Linked DNA regions of Homo sapiens: region 2 is linked to region 1. The links come from fine-mapping of genetic effects on gene expression. A gene starts in region 1. The other region holds a variant in brackets. All regions are shown on one strand. Distances are from middle to middle.

What was found.
Region 2: its variant is fine-mapped to the expression of LGSN in whole blood (TOPMed, PIP above 0.99).

What each region holds. Positions count from the first base shown.
Region 1 is chr6:63,315,338-63,326,542 of GRCh38, forward strand. It overlaps LGSN (lengsin, lens protein with glutamine synthetase domain), which reads right to left and starts at 4,646. Exons shown (of 4, transcript NM_016571.3): 1 at 4,577-4,646. The coding sequence starts at 4,606.
Region 2 is chr6:63,346,478-63,357,682 of GRCh38, forward strand. It overlaps a transcript of LGSN not described here. Among named protein-coding and RNA genes, the nearest start is that of LGSN, 32 kb to the left of the region's middle. RefSeq lists enhancers at 654-1,853, 6,126-6,235, 6,306-6,575, 6,676-6,765. The variant G/A (reference allele first, on the strand shown) is at 6,757.

The DNA of each region.
Region 1 (11,205 bases):
CTAGATAAAATATGGCATGGACTTCTTCAAAGTTTTCTCTAGAAGGGCTTAGACCTGTGCTTCTTTACTTAGATGGGCTTGTGCTAGTGAAAGCCTGCTCTACAATGCCTCTGTAGCTTTACTCTATAAATTTTACCTTTTCTTTAGGGTTTTTTCACAGTAGTTACCCTCAATATCAGGCCTTTTCACCACGGTTATGATTACCCCACTTAAGATACTGAGAAAACATTATTTCTCTTGCTTTTCTGAAGAATAGCTAAAATGTTCTCTCTCTCTCTCTCTGTGTGTGTGTGTGTGTGTGTGTGTGTGTGTGTGTGTATGCATGCTCTCACTCTCTATATATCTATATAAATATATAGATATATATTTCAGTGAGGCAACTGAGGATCTGATAAATGCAGCAACTTGACTGGCTTCATAGCTAGAACATAGCAGAATTCAAATATGTGTGGTTTACAACTCTTATTTCATCTCTTCATGCTACTTACAAACTTTATATGTGACAAAATACAGAAAACTAAGGAAATCCAGGTCTTAAAAAAAAAAAAAACTCCACATTTCAAGTGAGAGTTCAATAGTATCTCTATCTTTTGAAGTAAAACAAAGCACAGAAGGAAAATCCAGATAAATTGCTTGGAATTTGCAATGAATCAGAATTTTACTTAATATAATAAGCCCAAAATGGAATGGGTTATTTGTCAAAGTGTTGAGTTTCTCATCTCCAAGCACATTTGTGGGGAGATTAGCCAAATGTCAGGGTCAACCTGGTTAATTTCCACTTCTACAATCAAATTTTCACTTTCTAACTGTTTAATCCTCACCACTTTTACAAGATAATAACCTAGACCTAAGTTGGCAGATTAGGTGGAACATTCATATGTGACCGAGAATGATAGAGCAACGATCATTACTGAGAGCTCTGTGTGAAAGAAGTATCAGAATGTAAATGATATAGCTGCTCCCATATGAAAAGCTATGAGTCTCGTTTTTATTTCTAACAAATTGGCTAATAGTCAACAGTGTGTATCAACCCATAAACAAATCTCACCTCTGTGGGCAAGTTATGCAAAATCTACAATAGAAGTTCTACACAAGAAAAATATACCTAACCAAACATTTTCAGAGAAGGAAAAACATAATTTTACAAAGGTCTAACACCATGTGATTTTGATAATATGAAGCTAAATAATAAAGAACACTAAAATAATAAAGGAAGCAAAAAGTTTTGTTTTATTTAGTATGTTCATAATTAAATCAAAGAAGAATTCTCCATATTTTTTAGAGAAATTAAGATCGTATGGCTAAAAATATATTTATCCATGTAGACAGGACAAAAATAATTTGTGAAGGCTTTGTGGGTGAGCAGAAAAGCAACAAAAATATTTCAAAGGTAAAAAGACATGTAGAAAAAATTTAAATATTCATGTATATATAATATATATTTATGATAATGGGCTCTGTAATATAGTATGAAAAAAGATCCAAGAATGTTATGGAACTGTTCGTGAAGATATCAGCTAATGGGCTGCTGCAGCATATAAAAATACTGCAAATATGAATATAAAAATACTTTAAATGTGAGAGGGGAAGGTGCTCTACCCTTTAAAAAAATTATGATATGCCTGTAACTGATTGCTAAAAATAGTTCTAGTCATTGTGCCTTAGGAAAGCCTTAATAGGCTAGAAGTGGATGGATATATGTTTATGTAAAAAGGTATATTATATATAATTGTTATCATTACTATCATAAGCAAACAAATTCTATCATGTAAAGGAAAACATGTAAAACTCTTTAAGGCTGTAAAAATGAAAACAGGAGAGCTATTAGAGGTCAACATAACATAATAAAGTATATGTAATGAATGACTCCTTTTTAATGAGTTCTCACTATATTGTAAGCACAGTTCTAAGCACTTTACATGTATTAACTCATTTAATCTCCACAAAATCCCTTCCTGTAGGCACTATTAATGTCCCAGTGAGGTACAGAGAAGTCCAATACTTTGCCCCATGTCACACAGCTAGTAAGTAGCAGAGCCAAGATTAAAATGCAGGCATTCTCATTTCAGGAAGTGCGAGCTTAATCCACTGCCCTTGAAACTCAAATCTAATTTTTGTCTTGTCTCTCCACTGAGAATTCTTAAATGGAGAGCTAGTTGATACACTGGAAGTAGGTAAGTTTGAGGTAAATAATTATAAAATGAACTATAAACCTTGAAATCTTCAGAAGACAAATCTTCTGAATTCTCAGAGACAAAACAAATGGAAAATACAAAACAAGAATCAGGAGGTCTCTAGAGTCACACAGACAATAGCATAAAGCAGGGAAAGCTGGGGTAGGTAAATCTCTAGCCTCTTGAAGCAAGCCTCTAGAAGGTCAGGTAGAGCCTCCCATGGGGCTGCACTTCATGCCCCCAACAGATACAGGCTGCAGAGCAGGATGAGTCTCTGACTTCACCCCAGATGGCATTCATTCCTTCTGTGATATGGAAACGTCAGAACTGTGTCTACCTGTGTCAGTGTTCTCTGTATTGAGTTATAAATATCTGCAGGGTGGGGAACAGATCTTACTCACTTGACATATTACCCAGCTCAGCACCACACACAAGGTTCTTGATAAACAGATTTTAATTGTTATGATATGCCACTCTTTCACTCAATTTCACAATTTCATACACCCATAGGATCTACTTTAAGAAGTAAGAATGTGTTTTCAATCTATTTTTTGTCTGCCACTGCTAAGAATGTAGCTGAATGCATGACTTTACAGCATTGTTTTAAATAGAGAATCTCAGTAAAATATTCTTTAGGGGAGTACCAAACCTAAGATTAATAACTGTTCATTTTACTGAATATTCTGACAAAGAATTTCTTCAGACTGGGGAAGTAAGTATTCTGAGGGATTTTCTCCATATACACAATCTGCCCTTCGGAATCCACTGAGCTTTTGTTCAGCTGCTGTGTTTTGTAGTTAACTTCATGCTGCTCTTGCTCACATTACCAGAGCATCTAGCATGAAACACAGTCTTGTCCTTTTCCAAACATCTGTTAGCTGGAAAAGGAATGTCACATGTCATCTCTCTCCCTCCTTCCATATTCTTTCACTTCCTGAGAATGCGAACCTATACAGGAGAGTATAAAAGAGCTTATTCAGTGGAGTTGGGTCAAGTGGCCAGCCAAGATTCACCTTTATTACATCTAGTAAATACAATGCTCTATTCCAACTTTGAGGGAACTTTTCCTCAAAAGACAGAGAATGTCTCTTGCTGTGAGAATTGTGCAGTTTAAAAATCATATTGTTCATTTTTCTGCTCTCCTAAGAGTAAACAATCAACATTTGGTCTAGACTGGTCTTGAGGAGGGCATGGCTTTTAAGGACTTTCATGGGAGCTGTATCACCTGGAATCCTGGACTAAAATTGTGGGAGCTGGGGAAGAAAGCAGAGTTCTGCCATGGGATCAGAAGTAGTAAGTAAAACTAGTCCAAGAAGTTACATAGTTAGAAATCAAAATCCCAAAAAGCTAATGATGTATATGCTAATTACCTTTACTTTCTTTCTATAAGCCTTCCTTTGCAGCTATGAATTTACTTTTAGCTAAATTCATTATAATCACATAAACATGTCCACCATTTGATGCCTACAACAGTGACATGACAGTACAGGATAAGCCACAGCTCCTCCTCAGGGAGTGCCTTCTTCACATAGCCTTGCCCAGTTTCCCTTAGGGAAAGTGCATTTGTTCTTGACTCTATTTCAAAACAACTGCTTGTATTCACTATACAGATCAGTGAACCCATTCTTAGATGTTAGCTATCTTCTCCACTACATGCAAAAGTGGGGACCAGGTTTGTTCTCTATATGCCACTATTTCATACATAATGCACTGGTCTTCCACTGCACTCTTCACATAGTAGGTATGCTTCTTGCATTATATTTTCTTAACCTACTAAAGATAACTCACATCCTCCCAAATTTTACCACAGCTTGCCTCCAAGTCTGCACTTCAGTCTTTCAGAATGGTCAGTCAGAAATACAAGAGTGAAGGTTGGGTACACACACATTAAGAAGTGAGGAGAAATGTTATATGTTGACAACTGATTATTTTAATATATGCTAGACCCTATAAGTGGCTATCATTATTCATGCTGTGCATTTCAAATATAATTTGAAAACAGGTTTCCACCTTTAGTCATTTAATCTCAAAGCATATTTATTAGAAAGAGGCCAAAGCTTTGAGAAAAACAAAGATTATTCTCTCAATAACAACCAAAATAGAAATAAATTTTTTTATAGCATACTTATGCTTCTGAAACTCAGTGCCTATTGAACTTAAATGATTATTCAAACCAAATGAGCTTTCCTAGATGAATATTTTGAATTGTTTAGTTTTTATTATCTTTATAAATTCACTGTGTAGTACAGAAGGGCAATTCTTCATAAACTTCTCCTGAGTGGACATATAACAAGTATAATTATGCTGCCCTTATTCTTACTGGCATTCAAATAATTGACATTTTTTAAAAAGATTTACTGTCAATATTTTGGTTAAAAACATTTTAATGATTAGCTTCATACCTCCTGCAGAAGGTCCTCTTCATTATTCATCTCAACACTTTTTAAGTTCAGCGTTAGAAACCACAATATCCTCAACAAATGCATTCAACATGTATTTATATGTGTACCTACAACAAAGACTGCAGATGATGAATTCCATAGAGGCTTTTCCAGAGGGGTCTGGCAGGTAATAAAAGATAAACATCAGATTCTGATGTGTCATGCCCAAGGCACAGTATGCTGGAAATGCACTAGAAGAATCGAATGACAAATGCTTGTTTACGCCTGACTCCCTGCAAACAAAAGACATACAAAGCTTAAAATTGTGTTGGTTGATTTTTTTCTCCAACATACAGAATTTTTGTTACATAACAATTGTATTCTGGAATGATATCTATTGTCAGATTCAGATGATGAAACACTTATTAGACGACTATGCTATCAAAGCCCACAGACAAAAGCACAGATGGAAAAATACAGCTATAAGTGACCCAGATTTTTACCAATGGCAAAGATCCACTCATTTGTAATTCTCATTTTTATTTTCTTTTCTAGGTCCCTCTGGCCTCCAAATTAATTCTGGACCTTCATTATAAAACTGAAATATCTTTCTTTAGCTTTTCCAATTCTCCGATGTCAGTCTGTGACAAATCCCAGACCATCCCCACTGTGCACAATGAACACAGAATCATCTACAGGCTGCCCCATATGGTCCCATAAACAATCCTAACTCAGTAGAGGAAATAGGGAATGCTTTCTCTTCACTAGTAAAGGGGGTTTGAAATCACACTTCTGCTGCTATCAACTCAACTTCAAGTATTGTTGATGAAGGAGGATATGCAGTTTCTTCTGAACCAAACCAAATTCTCTCTAAGCATTTTCCATGTGGAAGTGTATAGTCTCCATGGCTAATCACTTCTTCCTGGTCTTCTGGGCCTGAGGAAGACCAAGCCAATACTTACAACCACTCAATCCTGCCTGACTCTCTTGGCCCATTTCAAAAGCCCCATTTCCTAAAGACAGTGATTAACTATTCCTATTTCCATTCCATTGGTACTTGTTCCATGACTGACTCTAAAGCTTCTGCTCTGTGTAGCCTGATCTACAACCAGATCTTGAATTTGGACCTAGTTCTGATGCTGATGCCAGCCTGAAACTGCATCCTGAATATGGCTGTTTTGGACTCTTGAACCTCCCCAAGAAAAGGGATTCTATCTCCTATCCTAGTATTTGACTTGCTCTTGGTGCTTTCCCCCAGATCTCTAGTAGGGTGTTTAATTCCCACAATGTCTTGTACCAGAGCCTTACCTAAGTTTTTCTCAATCCTCTTCTGAGACCACATTTGCTTCCACTTTTACAACTTTTTCTTGCATGTGCTTGTCTCCATGCAAAACAGGTGCCATTGAGCTATGGAAAAAAATGTTTTGTGAAAAATTTCGTTTTTGTTTCAGAAATGTTCCCTTTCCTATATCAAAGAAAAGAACTCCAAGCTGGTTTACATGTTCAGTTACATATTGGGACATGTTTTAAAAAAATCATTCCTTTATAGTACTACTTACCCAAATTTTCTCCTGGGAGTTTTATTGTTATTGAATATGCAATTTGATTCATTTCATCTTCTTTTCCTTACCTTATTTTGACAATCTCTTCTTCTCAATGTGTATCCATGATTTTTTTATAATATCCTTTCCTGAACCTTGATTTGCCCATTTTTGTAAAAAGTGTTCTAAAGCTTGGTTGGACATATGGTGTATAACCTAATTTATGGTATTAGCATGATACATATTTTAAAAGTATTACCATTATTTAGAATCAGTTTTTCCAAAGGAAAAACCAAATGTCAGTAAAGGGCTTAACAAATAGATTAGAAAAATAATAAATGGTCAATAAGTCCATATTAAACACTTTCATTCACAAGCATTTGTTCAATCTGTACTATATCCAGAAAGCTATCTTAGTCAAAATGAATATAGTCATTGAGCCATGAATGTAAATGATACAAGTCTTTCTCTTACCACTCTTCTGAGACAACATATGGAAAGACCGTTCAACTCAAGTACTTCTCCTGCCAAAAAGTTGTAATCTAATTGAATGGATCCAGAGAAGAGTAACTAAAATGATTAAAGGAATTATGGGATTCATTTCATGAGAACAGATTGCAGAAGCTAAAGCTTACTAAGTACCAACAAGGGGAAACAATATGTTGTTTACCACTAAGTTACTGCCTTCTGATGAATTATTGAACAGGATTGGAAGAGCAAAGGATGCAAATTAGGTAAAGGATTAAATCTATTCTTTCACTGTGGGAGAAAATGAAATCACAATGAATCTGTTTTTGTTTCATGTTTACATATATTATATGTTACAGTACAGTGTATAAAATACAAAGTTCTTGTCTTCCCAGCACTAACTGATAAGGAAATAGGGTGAAAACATGCCCAATGAGACCAAGGGAATAACTGACTTGTGAGAATAATAGCCAAGTTCAGTGAAGGAAATAATCTTTCTTATGACCTTCATGAATCACAAAAATATGGTTTCAGGTCAGCATAAGAACATAACAACCACGACAGAAGGATACTTCCACCCTACCTTTCTCCCGATTTGTTGTTGTTCTAGAAGCTGCATGGGTTTGTTCCTCCTTTATATGCATCTAATTATGACATACCTAACAGGAAGACTACATTGACACCCTTTATTGAAGATAACATCATACAAAAATTATAAGGAGTAATATTTGAGCTTCCCTAGTGGTTCTAGAACTCCTGTTCACAAAGGCCCCCAAAAGTTCCTTTCATGAATCCAGTCCCCATTTCTTTTCAGTTCTTCCCAGAAATACCTCATTTTCTAAGAAAATGGTAGATCTGTTTACAGAATTAAGATTTAAAACCGATGATTAAAAAATATTGGAGTGAGGACAGGTAGAAAATCAGTGAATTCAGGGCTGAGCGGAAACACACATTGGCAGGGAAACTGAAGAATATTTTTGTGTGTCCTTTTCATTTGTTTCAGAAAGGGAATTTCTCCTCTCATCTGCCCCTTCGATAAACCTAAGTAAGCAATGAGTAGAAAACAGCGTAACTCCCTGAAAAAAATTATTTTGTAAAGTTGATACAATTTAAAACTAGTTTAAAATCATTTTAATTTAGCATTTTCAATGATTTTCACATATCCTTAAGCATTTATATATTTAGCACAAGCTTCATAAAGTTAAATGAAGTCAGTTGTGAAAGTGGAAGCATGAAATTCTGAATTCCAAGGCACATAAGGAGCTTGCAATCACATATAATAAGTTAAAAATTATTCCAAAACAGCCCAAGCTATTTTTAGAAGGAGAGTGCCACAGAATACATTTCTTTTTATTTGTAAGATTTATGGAGTCCAGGTGCAGTTTTGTTACATGAATATAGTGCATAGTGGTGAAGTCTTGGCTTTTAGTGTAGCCATCACCGGAATAGTATACATTGTACCTGTTAAGTAATTTCTCATCACTCATCCCACTCCACCCTTTTGAGTCTCTACTGTCTATTCACAGAAGACATTTTTATAACACCATTAATTTTAAAAAATTGGTAGCTGGTGTTGTCCTTGTTTCCTTCTTTTAATGGCATCATTCTACTTATTGTGATAATATCTACAAATTCTTGAGAGCACCAAAACCTCATATACACACACACACACACACACACACACACACACACACACACACACACAGGTTATGTTAATCAATATTAGCATATTTAAAAATATAATAATAATGGGCATTGTACATATTAACATAAATAGCATTTTTTATAGAAAATTGATTTCTTATTTTCACAAATTGCTCTAATGTCTAGCTTAAGAGAAAAACCACTGGAATCTCGTATGTTTTTGCATTCTTTTTTTTTTTTTTTTTGAAACACAGTCTGCTCTGTCACCCAGACTGGAGTGCAGTGGTGCGATCTGGGCTCACTGCAACCTCCGCCTCCCGGGTTCAAGCAATTCTCCTGCCTCAGCCTCCCAGATAGCTGGGATTACAGGCACCCGCCACCACACCTGGATAACTTTTAGTATTTTTAGTAGAGACAGGGTTTCGCCATGTTGGCCAGGCTGGTCTGGAACTCCTGACCTCAGGTGATCCACCTGCCTCAGCCTCCCAAAGTGCTGGATGACAGGCGTGAGCCACCGCTTCCGGCTTGCATTTATTCTTTTGATACAGCCCATGTCATGCAACCTCTGGAAAACTTCACTATACACTAATGCTAGATGAGAATGAAAAGGCAAATAGAGTCTTACCATTACTGTGAAAATAATTTTGACCTCACAGTCTCCTCAAAGGTTCTTGGAATCCCTAGGGGTCCCTGAACCATACTTTCAGAACTGCTGCTGTAGTGAAACAACCAGCAGATTAAAGACTTGAGTTCTATAGGAAACACTGTTTTTTAAAGACATATCACATAGTTTTCTTGATAACAGTTTCCTTTTGTGCAAAATGTGGTTTAGGGCAAGATGATCTCAGGTTTCTCTTAACTCTGTTCTGTGATTGTGTAAGATATTAAATGAATTTTATAAAACAACTGAGAATACACATTGTCTTCATGAGCACATGGAATATTCTCCAGGACAGACTATATGTTAGGACACAAAACAAGTCTAAACAAACTTTTAAAAATTAAAATTATATCAAGTGTTTTATCAGACTCCAATTAAATAAAACTAAAAATCAACATCAAGAGGAACTTTGGAAACTCTACAAATACATGCAAATTAAACAACATGCTCCTGAATGGTCACTGGGTCAATGAAGAAATTGAGAAGAAAATAAAAAAAAATTTTTTGGAAACAAATGAAAATAGAAAAACTACATACCAAAATGTGTGGGGTACAGCAAAAGCTCTGCTAAGAGGGAAGTTGATAGCAATAAACACCTACATAAAAAAAAAAAACAGGAGGCTGCACATGGTGGCTCATGCCTGTAATCCCAGCACTCTGGGAGGCCGAGGCGGTCACATCACAAATTCAGGAGATCAAGACTATCCTGGCCAACATGGTGAAACCCCGTCCCTACTAAAAACACAAAAATTAGCTGGGCGTGGTTGAGCGCCTATAGTTCCAGCTACTCAGGGGACTCAGGCAGGAGGATCTCTTGAACCTGGGAGGCAGAGGTTGCAGTGAGCTGAGATCACACCACTGCACTCCAGCCTAGAAGACTGAGTGAAACTCTGTCTCAAAAAAAAAAAAAAAAAAAAGGAGAAAATTTTCAAATATATAATCTAATGATGCACCTTAAGGAACTTGATTAAAAAACACAAAACAAACAAACAAAAAGAACAAACCAAACCCAAAACTAGTGCAAGGAAAGAAATAATAAATATCAGAGCAGAACTCAATGAGATAGAAACTAATAAAATAATACAAAGGTTCAACCAAACACATTGGTTCTTTGAAAAGATAAACAACATTAATAAATCCCTAGCTAGACTAACCAGGAAGAGAGAAGATCCAAATAAGCAAAATTAGAAATGGAAAAGGAGACATAACTGATATCACAGAAATACAAAAGATCATCAGAGACTGTTATAAACAATTATACACTAACAAACTGGAAAATCTAGAGGAAAAGGAGAAATTCCTAGAAACATAGAACCTACCAAGATTGAATAAGGAATAAATAGAAAACCTGAACAAACCAATAATGAGTAGCAAGGTAGAATCAGTAATAATGTGTCCGGAATTGGTGGGTTCTGGGTCTCACTGACTTCAAAAATGAAGCCGCAGACCCTCACGGTGAGTGTTACAGCTTTTAAGGTGGCGCATCTGGAGTTTGTTCCTTCTGATGTTCAGATGTGTTCGGAGTTTCTTCCTTCTGGTGGGTTCGTGGTCTCGCTGGCTTCAGGAGTGAAGCTTCAGACCTTTGCGGTGAGTTTTACAGCTCATAAAAGCAGTGTGGACCCAAAGAGTGAGCAGTAGCAAGATTTATTGCAAAGAGCGAAAGAACAAAGCTTCCACAGTGTGGAAGGGGACCCGAGTGGGTTGCCACTGCTGGCTTGGGCAGCCTGCTTTTATTCTCTTATCTGGCCCCACCCACATCCCGCTGATTGGTAGAGCCGAGTGGTCTGTTTTGACAGGGCACTGATTGGTGGGTTTACAATCCCTACAATCCCTGAGCTCGACACAAAGGTTCTCCACGTCCCCACCAGATTAGCTAGATACAGAGTGTCCACACAAAGGTTCTCCAAGGCCCCACCAGAGTAGCTAGATACAGAGTGTCGATTGGTGCGTTCACAAACCCTGAGCTAGACACAAGGTGCTGATTGGTGTGTTACAAACCTTGAGCTAGATACAGTGCCGACTGGTATATTTACAATCCCTGAGCTAGATACAAGGTGCTGATTGGTGTGTTTACAAACCTTGAGCTAGATACAGAGTGCCGATTGGTATATTTACAATCCCTGAGCTAGACATAAAGGTTCTCCACATCCCCACCAGACTCAGAAGCCCAGCTGGCTTCACCCAGTGGATTCTGCACCAGGGCTGCAGATGGAGCTGCCTGCCAGTCCCGTGCCATGCACCTGCACTCCTCAGCCCTTGGGTGGTCGATGGGACTGGGCACTGTGGAGCAGGGGGTGGCGCTTGTTGAGGAGGCTTGGGCCGCACAGGAGCCCACG
Region 2 (11,205 bases), 31 kb after region 1:
CATATCTTGCCTAATGCATCTGGCTGTTCATCTGTATCTTTTATAATATCCTTTATAATAAACTGGCAAAAAAAAGTAAAGTGCTTTCCTGAGTTCTGTGAGCCACTCTAGTAAATGATTAAATGATTTAACCTAAGGAGGGAGTCATGTGAATCCCAATTCATAGCCAGCCGGTCAGAAGTTCCCAGATTGCAGTTGGCCTCTGAAGTGGGGGCAATCCTGTGAGACTGAGCCCTTAACCTATAGGATGTGACTCTAACTCTAGGTAGATATTACCAGAACTGAATTGAATTATAGGCCTGGAACTTTCGAGCTCACCCCACCATCCTTTTGAAAGAGGAGAGAAGCTGGAGATTGAGTTAATGCTCGGTCATGCCTTCTTGAAAAAGCCTCCATAAAAATCCCTAAACAATGAATTGGGAGACCTATGGACTGCTGAACACATGGAGAAGCTGAGAGGGGTAGCATCTCCTGGCGAAGTATGAAAGTTCCAGTCTTCAAATCATGGCTTAGTCTTTCTGGTTACCAGCCTCCATTCAGATGCCCACCAAAAGTTGCCTCATTAGAACAAGAGGCACTCCTATCATCCAGGAAATTTCAAGGGATTGGAAGCTCTGTGCCACCAGAGACACCCAGTTGATGTTTGCTGGAGAATTAGTATGTGGGGAAAAATAAATCCTACCCATCTGGTGTCAGAAGTGAGGAACTGAGAATGAGTGGTGAGTAGGAGAGGGAAAAACAATTCATGGGGCAAATCTTACTTCATTATTTCTTTTCAAAATTTCTTAGTTTTATGTATTTTTCCTTACTGATTAATTTTAAAACCAGTCTTTTTTAAAACAAAAAAAAGAACTCCAAAGTACTTTGAATTTGCATTAACTAAATATTTGGGGGAAATTGACATTTTTACAATTTGGAGGGTTATAATAATATGGTTTACTATTGATTTAGGTCTTCTTTGTGCTCTTCAGTTAAGTTATAAGGTCTAATTTACTGTTCAGACATATAATTTCAAGGTCTATGACTTTCCTGCTTCAGTGTCTTTTCTAATCCATCATTATTCCATCAGTTCATTCACTCATTCATTCTTTCATTCATTCATTTGTTTTCCAAGATGGCTTTTTCCAGTATGCTTAAAAGGCTAGAGAGGTCTCTAAGATAAGGAACTGCTTATCTTACAGTGACACATTTCATGAAATAAGATAACTGATGCCAAAGTCTTTTGAAAATTTGGAAAATTACCACGTAAATATCTGTTCCATTCTTATACTCAATTAGTCACTAAGTGAAAACATGTAAGCTGAATCTCACAATGACTAATGTTTCTGCAGCCTGCTTAAATAAGCGGTAACTTATTTAAAAATCCAAAATGCTTGCTAAGTCATATATGACTCATACAGCAGAGTCCATTAGTCAGGAATGACTTGTAGGGAAATATTCCTAATATTAGAAAAAGGTTAATTGTGTGAATAAGAAAATAAGATATAAGATCAAGTCTGCTTCTAGCTCTTGAAAATTTTCTTAAAATTGGAGGAGAAACTCCTTTCTCCAAGTAAGAAAAAAACAAATAAAACCACTGATTTATAACAAAAGAAAGCATAAATAAGCTAGTCATTCAATATTAGCCAAGAGCTGAAGAATATAGTCTAACGTAAATACAGCAGCTCAGGAGACAATGACCTTGAAAACTAGCAGCCACAAAAGAAAGAACAGACTAATATAAAAGTATGGACTGGGAGGCAGAAATGGGCAGATCACCTGAGGTCAGGAGTTCGAGACCAGCCTGGTCAACATGGCAAAACCCCGTCTTTACTAAAAACACAAAAATTAGCTGGGAGCTGTGGCGCATGCCTGTAATCCCAGCTACTCGGGAGGCTGAGGAAGGAGAATTGCTTGAATCCAGGAGGCGGAGGTTTCAGTGAGCCGAGATCACACCACTGCACTCCAGCCTGGGCGACAGAGTTAGACTCTGTCTCAAAAGAAAAAAAAAAATATATGGAAATGTAATTAAGCATTCACAATGCAGGTCTACGAGCTCTTGGTGCGCATGGCATTCTAGTTTCTATTTTGATTTTTTAGTTAACGGCTCAACAAATATTTTGGAACATATCATCTCTACAAGGCACTAGTAGATGTTGAAGAGAGACAACATCTTATTGCACATCTGGCCTACAGTAATCTGTGTTTGGTAGGAGTCATGGAGCATTATTTAGTATCTTAACCCAAAGTAGGATACTAACTACACTAGAAATGAAGATTTTTACTTTTTTTTTTTTTTTTTTTGCTTTTTTAAAATAGAGGTGGGGTCTTGCTGTGTTGCCCGGGCTGGTCTCGAAATCTTGGCCTGAAGCAATCCTCCTGCCTCGCCTTCCTAAAGCACTGAGATTACAGGCATGAGCCACCACACCTGGCCAGAAGTATAGATTTTTAAAACTACGTAGTAAAGGCTTTCAAAGGGGAACAAGTTAATGCAAAGTTCTTTGGAAGAGTTAGCATTGGAATGCAGCCTTCAAGCAATCGAGAATTGTTCCTGTAAAGTTGAAGATAAGGAAAAGGGGGCAGAAGTCAAAGCACTGAGCTTACTGTGCACAGAAAAACAAGGTGAATACTCAATTTAATGATGCATGAAGAAAGGAAGAGAAACAGGAGTCCTTTAGACCTTGATTTTCAAAGAGCTTCTTACATGCCATAGGCTGCCCTCAAACTTTTGGTTGTTTTGTTGTTATTGACTTAAGTAAGATAATAAACTTAATCAGAACTGTGCTTTGGAATGATTCATTAAGAAGCCACTCTGTAATGTAAATTGTGAGAGTATTAAGGCAGAGACTGGAGACTGGGGGCTAAATTAGGAAATATTTGTAGCTGATGAGAAACATGGTTGGTAGAATTCTAAAAAGGCCCCTAAATTCCCAACCCTTGGTGCAAAAACACCTTCTCCTAGGTATTCAATCAAACATTAATCTAGGTGTTGCTGTGAAAAGATTTGTGATGTGGCTATGGCCTCAAATCAGTTAAGGTTGAGAAACATTCTAAGAAAGTCTGACCTAATCACAAACCCTTTAATCTGTGTTTAGAGGTCAGCAACAGGGAAGTTGGAGAGATTCAAACTATGATTGCAATTCGACAAGGGAGAGTTTTTCCACCACGGGCTTTGAAGATGGAGAGGACCACATGGCAAAGAATGCAGATGGCCTCTGGAAGCTGAAAGTGCCCTTGGCCAACAACCAGCAAGGAAACAGGAACCAGAGTCTTACAATAAAAAGGGCTTAAAATAACACAAATTTATGATAGCACAGCTTCTGTAGATGAGATGTACTAACGACGTGATTGAGTTCTGTGCTCAAGTTATCATAAGACTGAAATCAAGGTGTTGGGTAGGCTGAGTCCTTCTACGGAGACTGGGAACAATCCACTTCTCAACGCATTCTGGTGGCATTTAGGGATAAGCTGGTTTATCCAGGCCAGCTTCACAGAAGATGAATATAGTTCCATTTCAGTTATTAGAGACCTACCCAAAGATTTAGAAGAATGTTTGATTATTTGAAAGCATTTTAAAACTATTCATTCAACAAGGAAAAGTTGAAAAAGAGTTCAGTACCTATCATGTAAATTATTAAGGTTGGTGCAGAAGTAATTAGCAAAAACCGCAAATACTTTTGCACCAACCTAATAATTAACTCATGAGGAATGGTAAAAGTGAGTAAGCTTTTTAGTTAAGAAAACTGGATTTATAGAGTTATTCTAGCTGTGTTCTATTCAATTATTACCTTGATTTCTTTCATTCTTTCTTTGGTTATAATATGAAAGCAATTACTATATTAATTATTTCACAGGGTTGTTAGTAGGACCAAATTTATTAAAATATACAAAGGACTTCACAAACTGGAAAATATTTTACAGATTTGTAATTATAATTATTACTGGATCTAGTCATAGTTATTTGTCTGCAAACCATAAATTATCTCAGTGCATTCAAATTAACCTGGTTGTGAAGATTTAAAATTTTTTACTTTATTTCCAGTTTTAATAAACAGCATACTGAAAATAGTGCCACAGGCACATCATAAAACTAACTACAAAGTAAACAGTTCAGGCCAGGGGTGGTGGCTCACGCCTATAATCCCAGCACTTTGGGAGGCCAAGGTGGGTGGATCACCTGAGGTCAGAAGTTCCAGACCAGCCTGGCCAACATGGTGAAACGCTCTCTCTACTAAAAATACAAAAATTAGCTGGACATGGCAGCGCACACCTGTAATCTCAGCTATTCAGGAGGCTGAGGCAAGAGAATCACTTGAACCTGTGGGGCAGAGGTTACGGTGAGCTGAGATGGTGCCACTTCACTCCAGCCTGGGCCACAGAGCCATCTAAAAAAAAAAAAACAAACAAACAAAAACGAGTTCAGACGACCAATTGGTAAGTAAAACAATTGGTTTTTTATCCTAATAAAAAAGAATTTGCCATTCAATCACTAACATCCAAAACTATTTACAGTGCTATATTCTGAATATTTGTGTCTCTTCCACCCAAATTCATATGTGGAAATGTTAACCCCCAAGGTTAACATAAGAGGTGGGTCCTTTGAGAGGCGATTAGGTTATCAGAATGGAACCCTCACAAATGGGATTAGTGTCTTTATAAAAGAGACCCCAGAAAGATCCCTTCCCATTTCTACCATGTGAGGTTACTGTGAGAAAACCCTGTCTGTGAGGAAGCAGACCCTCACCAGACACCAAAGCTACCAGTGTCTTGTTCTGGGACTTCTCAAACTTCAGAACTGTGAGAAATACATTTCTGATATTTATCTGCCACCCAGTTTATGGTGCTTTCTAATAGCAGCCTGAAAAGATTAAGACAAAAGGAAGGAAAAAAAGCAGATATTTGCTTTATAAATATCTCTGTGTGTGTGTGTGTATGTGTGTCTGTGTGTGTCTGTGTGTGTGAGAGAGAGAGAGAGAGGAAGAGAGAGAGAGAGAGAGACAGAGAAAGAGAGACAGAAACAGAGACAGAGTCTCACTCTGCCACCTAGGCTGGAGTGTAGTGGTGCGATTTCAGCTCACTGCAACCTCTGCCTCCCAGGTTCAAGTGATTCTTGTGCCTCAGCTTCAAGCAGCTGGGATTACAGGTGCCCGCCACCATGCCAGGCTAATTTTTTGTATTTTTAGTAGAGACGGGGTCTTCCTATGTTGGCCACTCTGGTCTCGAATTCCTAGCCTCAAGTGAACCACCCACCTCGGCCTCCCAAAGGGCTAAGATTACAGATATGAGCCTCCACACTCAGCCTAAATATCTTAAATATGAATGTCAAAATAAAACTAACAGCAATCTAATGATCTTGACCACTTTGATTTACATGGAGACTAATAATTTTTTAAATGATGTTTCAATGACATATACTGTATAGTCTTTTTAAACCTGAGACTGATTTACTGTTTCAATATATCAGAGAACATTTAAAGAAAATTGTGTCATTGCCTCAGGATTTTCCAATGTATAAAGAAAGAATTTCTTGTAATGACCTCGTAGATATGGTACTTAAGAGTAAGTAACAAATAGACAAATAATTTTAAAACAAGAAATGGTTGAGACAGAAATGACCTTCCTGGAAAATAAATGCAATTAGAAAAAAGACTATTGTTACATGAAATGAATTATATGAAGGATGTTTCTAGGCAAACAGTAGGTGGCAACATCTACACAGACTTGTTTTAGAAATGCTTGTATAACATCAAAACAAAACTTACAAGCTAATGATTCATGAAATAGGGAATTTTCCAAAACTCACATGTTAGTAGAGATATTTATGCGCAAATCCATTGTTTTGTATTCTTTCTATTTTGGAATGTCATGCTTATGCCTTATCACAAGGACTCCACTAAGATCAATAATCTTAAAAATGTTTTGTTTGGCCAGGTGTAGTGACTAACGCCTAGAATCCCAGCACTTTGGGAGGCTGAGGCAGGATTGCTTGAACCAAGAATTTCGGGACCAGCTCTGGCAATATAGAGAGTCTCCATCTCTACAAAAAATACGAAAATTCACCAGGTGTGGTGGTACATGCCTGTGGTCCCAGCTACTTAAGAGGCTGAGGCGGGAAGATTGCTTGAACCTGGGACATCAAGGCTTCACTGAGCCATGATCACACCACCGCACTCCAGTCTGTCTCTCTCTCTCTCTCTTCCTCTCTCTCTCTCTCACACACACACAGACACACACACACACACACACACAGACACACAGTTTTATTTGTGGGTTATGTTAGAGACTGTTCATCTGTCTCTCAAACAAAGGGATAGAATTTTGTTCCCCTCACATTTCTTGGCCAGATTAGGTGGTTGAATTAGATAAGAGTAAGGATTAAGGGAACCATGCAAACAGCTGGATTTTTTTTTAATGCCACAATATGACCTCAATTACTGGAGTTCACAGAAGTTGCAGAAGACACATCCGGTGGTCAAGAAAAGGGGAAGCTGCCTTAAGTTTCCTTTTCTCTTGTGAGCGCAACAACCTCCATCTGTCTTTCTCTGTAACGCTGAAGACAGACACGTGACCCTGGTTCTCACAGAAGAACTTTCAAATCTAAAAAGCCATTTTAGGAAATAATTGGAAAAGTCTCTGTAGCCTTTGAGCTCCAGGATATTTGTTTTCCAGAATGATGAGATTGGTTATTGAATGTTTTAATGGTTGGAAACCAGAGAGTAGCTTTAGAGGCAAGCAGAGGCGCTGCTTTTTAACAGCAGAGGTCAGTAACACCAAAGG[G/A]GAAGGAAATTGAGCAGTCTGGCCAGAAATTGCAGATTTCTGTTGCAGACCCAACAGGCAAGAGGCAATAGGCAACATCCTGAGACACACAGGAAAACCTGATCCTTAGTACCTAACAGGGTCTCCTGTGCAGAAAATGTTCCCATCCCTGGCAACAGTGCCTTCCTGGATATGCTCACAGATGTTTAAGACTCTCCCTACCAGAGAAATAGCTTCTATCACAGAGTATTTTGTAGGGAACCATAACAGAACGTAAGGTGAAGTTTTCTACTATACTCTTATAATTATTGAAATTTTTCCTACTTCATTAATACCTGGACTTAGATTTCTCTTTTAGAAAGAAGCAGTTTGTAGCAAAAAAAAAAAAAAAAAAAGAAAAAATAATGTTTTTCACAGAAATTGAAAAAACAATCTCAAAATTTGCATGAAACCAAAAAAGAGCCTGAGTAGCCAAAGCAGTCCTCAGCAAAAAGAACAAAGCTGCAGACATCACACCACCTGACTTCAAAATATATTACAAGGTTATAGTAACCAAAGCATCATTACAGTGATACAAAAACTGACACATAGACCAATGAAACAGAATAGAGAACCTGGAAATAAGTCTACATATAAGGCAACTGATTTTTTTTATAAAGTTGCCAAGAATATACATTGGGAAAAGGGACACCGTCTTCAATAAATGGTGCTAAGAATACTGGATATTTATACACAGAAGAATGAAACTAGACCCCTATCTCTCACTACATATAAAAATCAACTCAAAACGGATTAGACTTAAACATGAGACCTCAAACTATAAAACTACTAGGGAAAAAACCTAGAGAAAACACTTTAGGGCATTGGTCTAGGCAAAGACTTTATGGCTAAGACCTCAAAAGTACAGGTAACAAAAATAAAAATAGACAATGGTACCATATTAAACTAAAAAGCTTCTGCACAACAAAGAAAACCATCAATATCATGAAAACACAGCCTGCTGAATGGGAGAAAATATTTGCAAACTGCTTGTCTGACAAGGGACTGATATCCAAAATACATAAGGAACTCAAACAGCAAAAAAAATAAATAAATAATCCCTTTAAAAAGTGGGCAAGAGGTCTGAATAACATTTCTTGGACGAAGACACACAAATGGCCAGCAAATACATGAAAAAATGTTCAACGTCACTAATCATCAGGGAAATGTAAATTAAAACCAAAATGAGATACCATCTTACCCCAGTTAGAATAGTTATTATTAAAAAGACAAAAATATAACAGATGCTGGTGAGGATGCAAAGAAAAGGTAACTCTTGTACACTGTTGATGGGAATGTAAATTAGTACAGCCACTATGGAAGCAGTATGGCGATTTCTCAAAAAAACTAAAAATAGAAATACCATATGATCTATCACTACTGGGCAATTATCCAAAGGAAAGGAATCAGTATGTTGAAGAGACATCTGCGCTCACATATTTATTCCAGCACTATTCACAACAGCAAAGACAGAGAATCAACCTGTGTTCATCAACAGATGATTAAAGAAAATATGATACATATACACAATGGAATACTATTTAGCCATAAAAAAGAATGAGATAATACCATTTGCAGCAACATTGATGGAAGTGGAGATCATTATGTTAAGTGAAATAATCCAGACCCAGAAAAACAAATATTGCATGTTCTCACTCATATATGGGAGAAAAAAAAAAAGTTGATCTCTTGGATGTACAGAGTAAAATGACAATTACTAACGACTAGGAAGGGTATGGGTGTGGGTGTGGGTGTAGGGGAGGAAAAAGAAAGAATAGTTTCTAAAGTTCCATAGCAAAGAAGGGTGACTACAGTAAACAACAATGTATTGTATAGTTCAAAATAGCTACACAGAGGACTTGAAATGTTCCCAACACATAAAAATGATAAATGGAAAAGGTGATGTGTATCCTAAATACCCTGACTTGATGGTTACACATTCTATGCATATAACAAAATATCACATGTACCCTACAAATACATACAAATATTATGTATCAATTTAAAAAAAAATGAAAAATAAAATATCCCTACATTCTCTTGGCAAATATGTATTGAGTGCTGGGCACTGTTCTAAGTACTTGGGGCACAAAAGTGAAGAAAATGTACTTTGTCTCTTTCCTCATGGTAATTAGTCTAGTAGAGGCAGGCAGAAATTGAACAACAAAAAGAGTACATCCTATGCCAGGTGGTGTATTCATTTCTTTGGGCTGCCATAACCAAGTACTGTAAACTGGGTAACTTAAAACAACAGAAATTTATTGTGTCATTAATTCTTATGGCTGGAAGTTCAATCAAAGTGTCCACAGAGCCATGCTGTCTCTGAAACCTGGAGGAAAATCTTTCCTGGCCTTTCTCTCGCTTCTAGTCGTTTGCTGGCAATCTTTGGCATTCCTTGGCTTGTAGATGCATCACTCCAGTACTCTGTCTTTTTGTTTTGTTTTGAGACGGAGTTTCACTCTTGATGCACAGGCTGTTGTGCAATGGTGCAATCTTGGCTCACCACAACCTCTGCCTCCCAGGTACAAGCAATTCTCCTGTCTCAGCCTTCCAAGTAGCTTGGATTACAACATGTGCCACCATGCCTGGCTAATATTTTTTGTATTTAGTGGAGACGGGGTTTCACCATGTTACTCATGCTGGTTGTGAACTCCTGACCTCAGGTGACCCACCCACCTTGACCTTCCAATGTGCTGGTATTACAGGCGTGAGCCACTGGACCTCGCCAGTACTCTGTCTTCACATGGTGTTATTCCTGTATCTGTTCACATATTCTTCCTTCTACGCACATCTATATATATATGTCCAAATTTCCCCTTTTTATAAGGACACCGGTTATATTGCACTAGGGCCCACCCTAATAATCTCATCTTGACTACATCTGCAAACACTGTATTTAAAAATAAGATCACATTCTGAGATCCTGAAGGTTAGGACTTCAAGTTATCGTTTTGGGGAAAAACAATTCAACTCATAGTCCACATTTAAAAAAATAATAATAAAGCAGGCCAGGCACAGTGGCTCATGCCTATAATCCCAGCACTTTGGGAGGCTAAGGCAGGAAGATCACGTGAAGTCAGGAGTTCGAGACCAGCCTGAACAACATGATGAAACCCCATCTCTACTAAAAAAATACAAAAATTAGCTGGGTGTGGTGGCTCGTGCCTGTGATCCCAGCTACTCGGGAGGCTGAGGTGGGAGAATCGCTTGAACCTGAGAGGCAGAGGTTGCAGTGAGCTGATATCATGCCACTGCACTCCACCCTGGGCGACAAGAGCAAAACTCTGTCTCAAAAAGTTAAAAAATAAGAAAAATAAAAATAAAGCAGAGTAAAAGAAATAAAAGTAACAGTCAAGAGATGAGGCATGTTTAGGTAAGGTAGTCAAAGATGTGACATTTGGATAGAGAAGGTAAGATGTGAACAGACACTGAGGAATTGTGCCATGCATATACCTAGGAGAAGAGATATCTTCTCCTGAAAATATAGGATGTTAAGTGCCAAAACTGCAACATGACCAATTGTCTTCCAATCTTTAAAGCATCTTTATGGTTACAAAGAAATGTAAGTTAAAATCACAACCCCCAATTTTTTTTTATACTTTAAGTTTTAGGGTACATGTACACAACGTGCAGGTTTGTTACATATATATACATGTGCCATGTTGGTATGCTGCACCCATTAACTCGTCATTTAACATTAGTTATATCTCCTAATGCCATCCCTCCCCCCTCCCCCCACCCCACAACAGGCCCCGGTGTGTGATGTTCCCCTTCCCGTGTCCATGTGTTCTCATTGTTCAATTCCCACCTATGAGTGAGAACATGCGGTGTTTGGTTTTTTGTCCTTGCGATAGTTTGCTGAGAATGCTGGTTTCCAGCTTCATCCATATCCCTGCAAAGGACATGAACTCATCATTTTTTTATGGCTGCATAGTATTCCATGGTGTATATGTGCCACATTTTCTTAATCCACTCTATCATTGTTGGACATTTGGGCTGGTTCCAAGACTTTGCTATTGTGAATACTGCCTCAGTGAACATATGTGTGCATGTGTCTTTATAGCAGCATGATTTATAATCCTTTGGGTGTATACCCAGTAATGGGATGGCTGGGTCAAATGGTATTTCTAGTTCTAGATCCCTGAAGAATTGCCACACTGACTTCCACAATGTTCGAAGTAGTTTACAGTCCCACCAACAGTGTAAAGTGTTCCTATTTCTCCACATCCTCTCCAGCACCTGTTGTTTCCTGACTTTTTAATGATCGCCATTCTAACTAGTGTGAGATGGTATCTCATTGTGGTTTTTATTTGCATTTCTCTGATGGCCACTGATGATGAACATTTTTTCATGTGTCTTTTGGCTGCATAAATGTCTTCTTTTGAGAAGTGTCTATTCATATCCTTTGCCCACTTGTTGATGGGGTTGTTT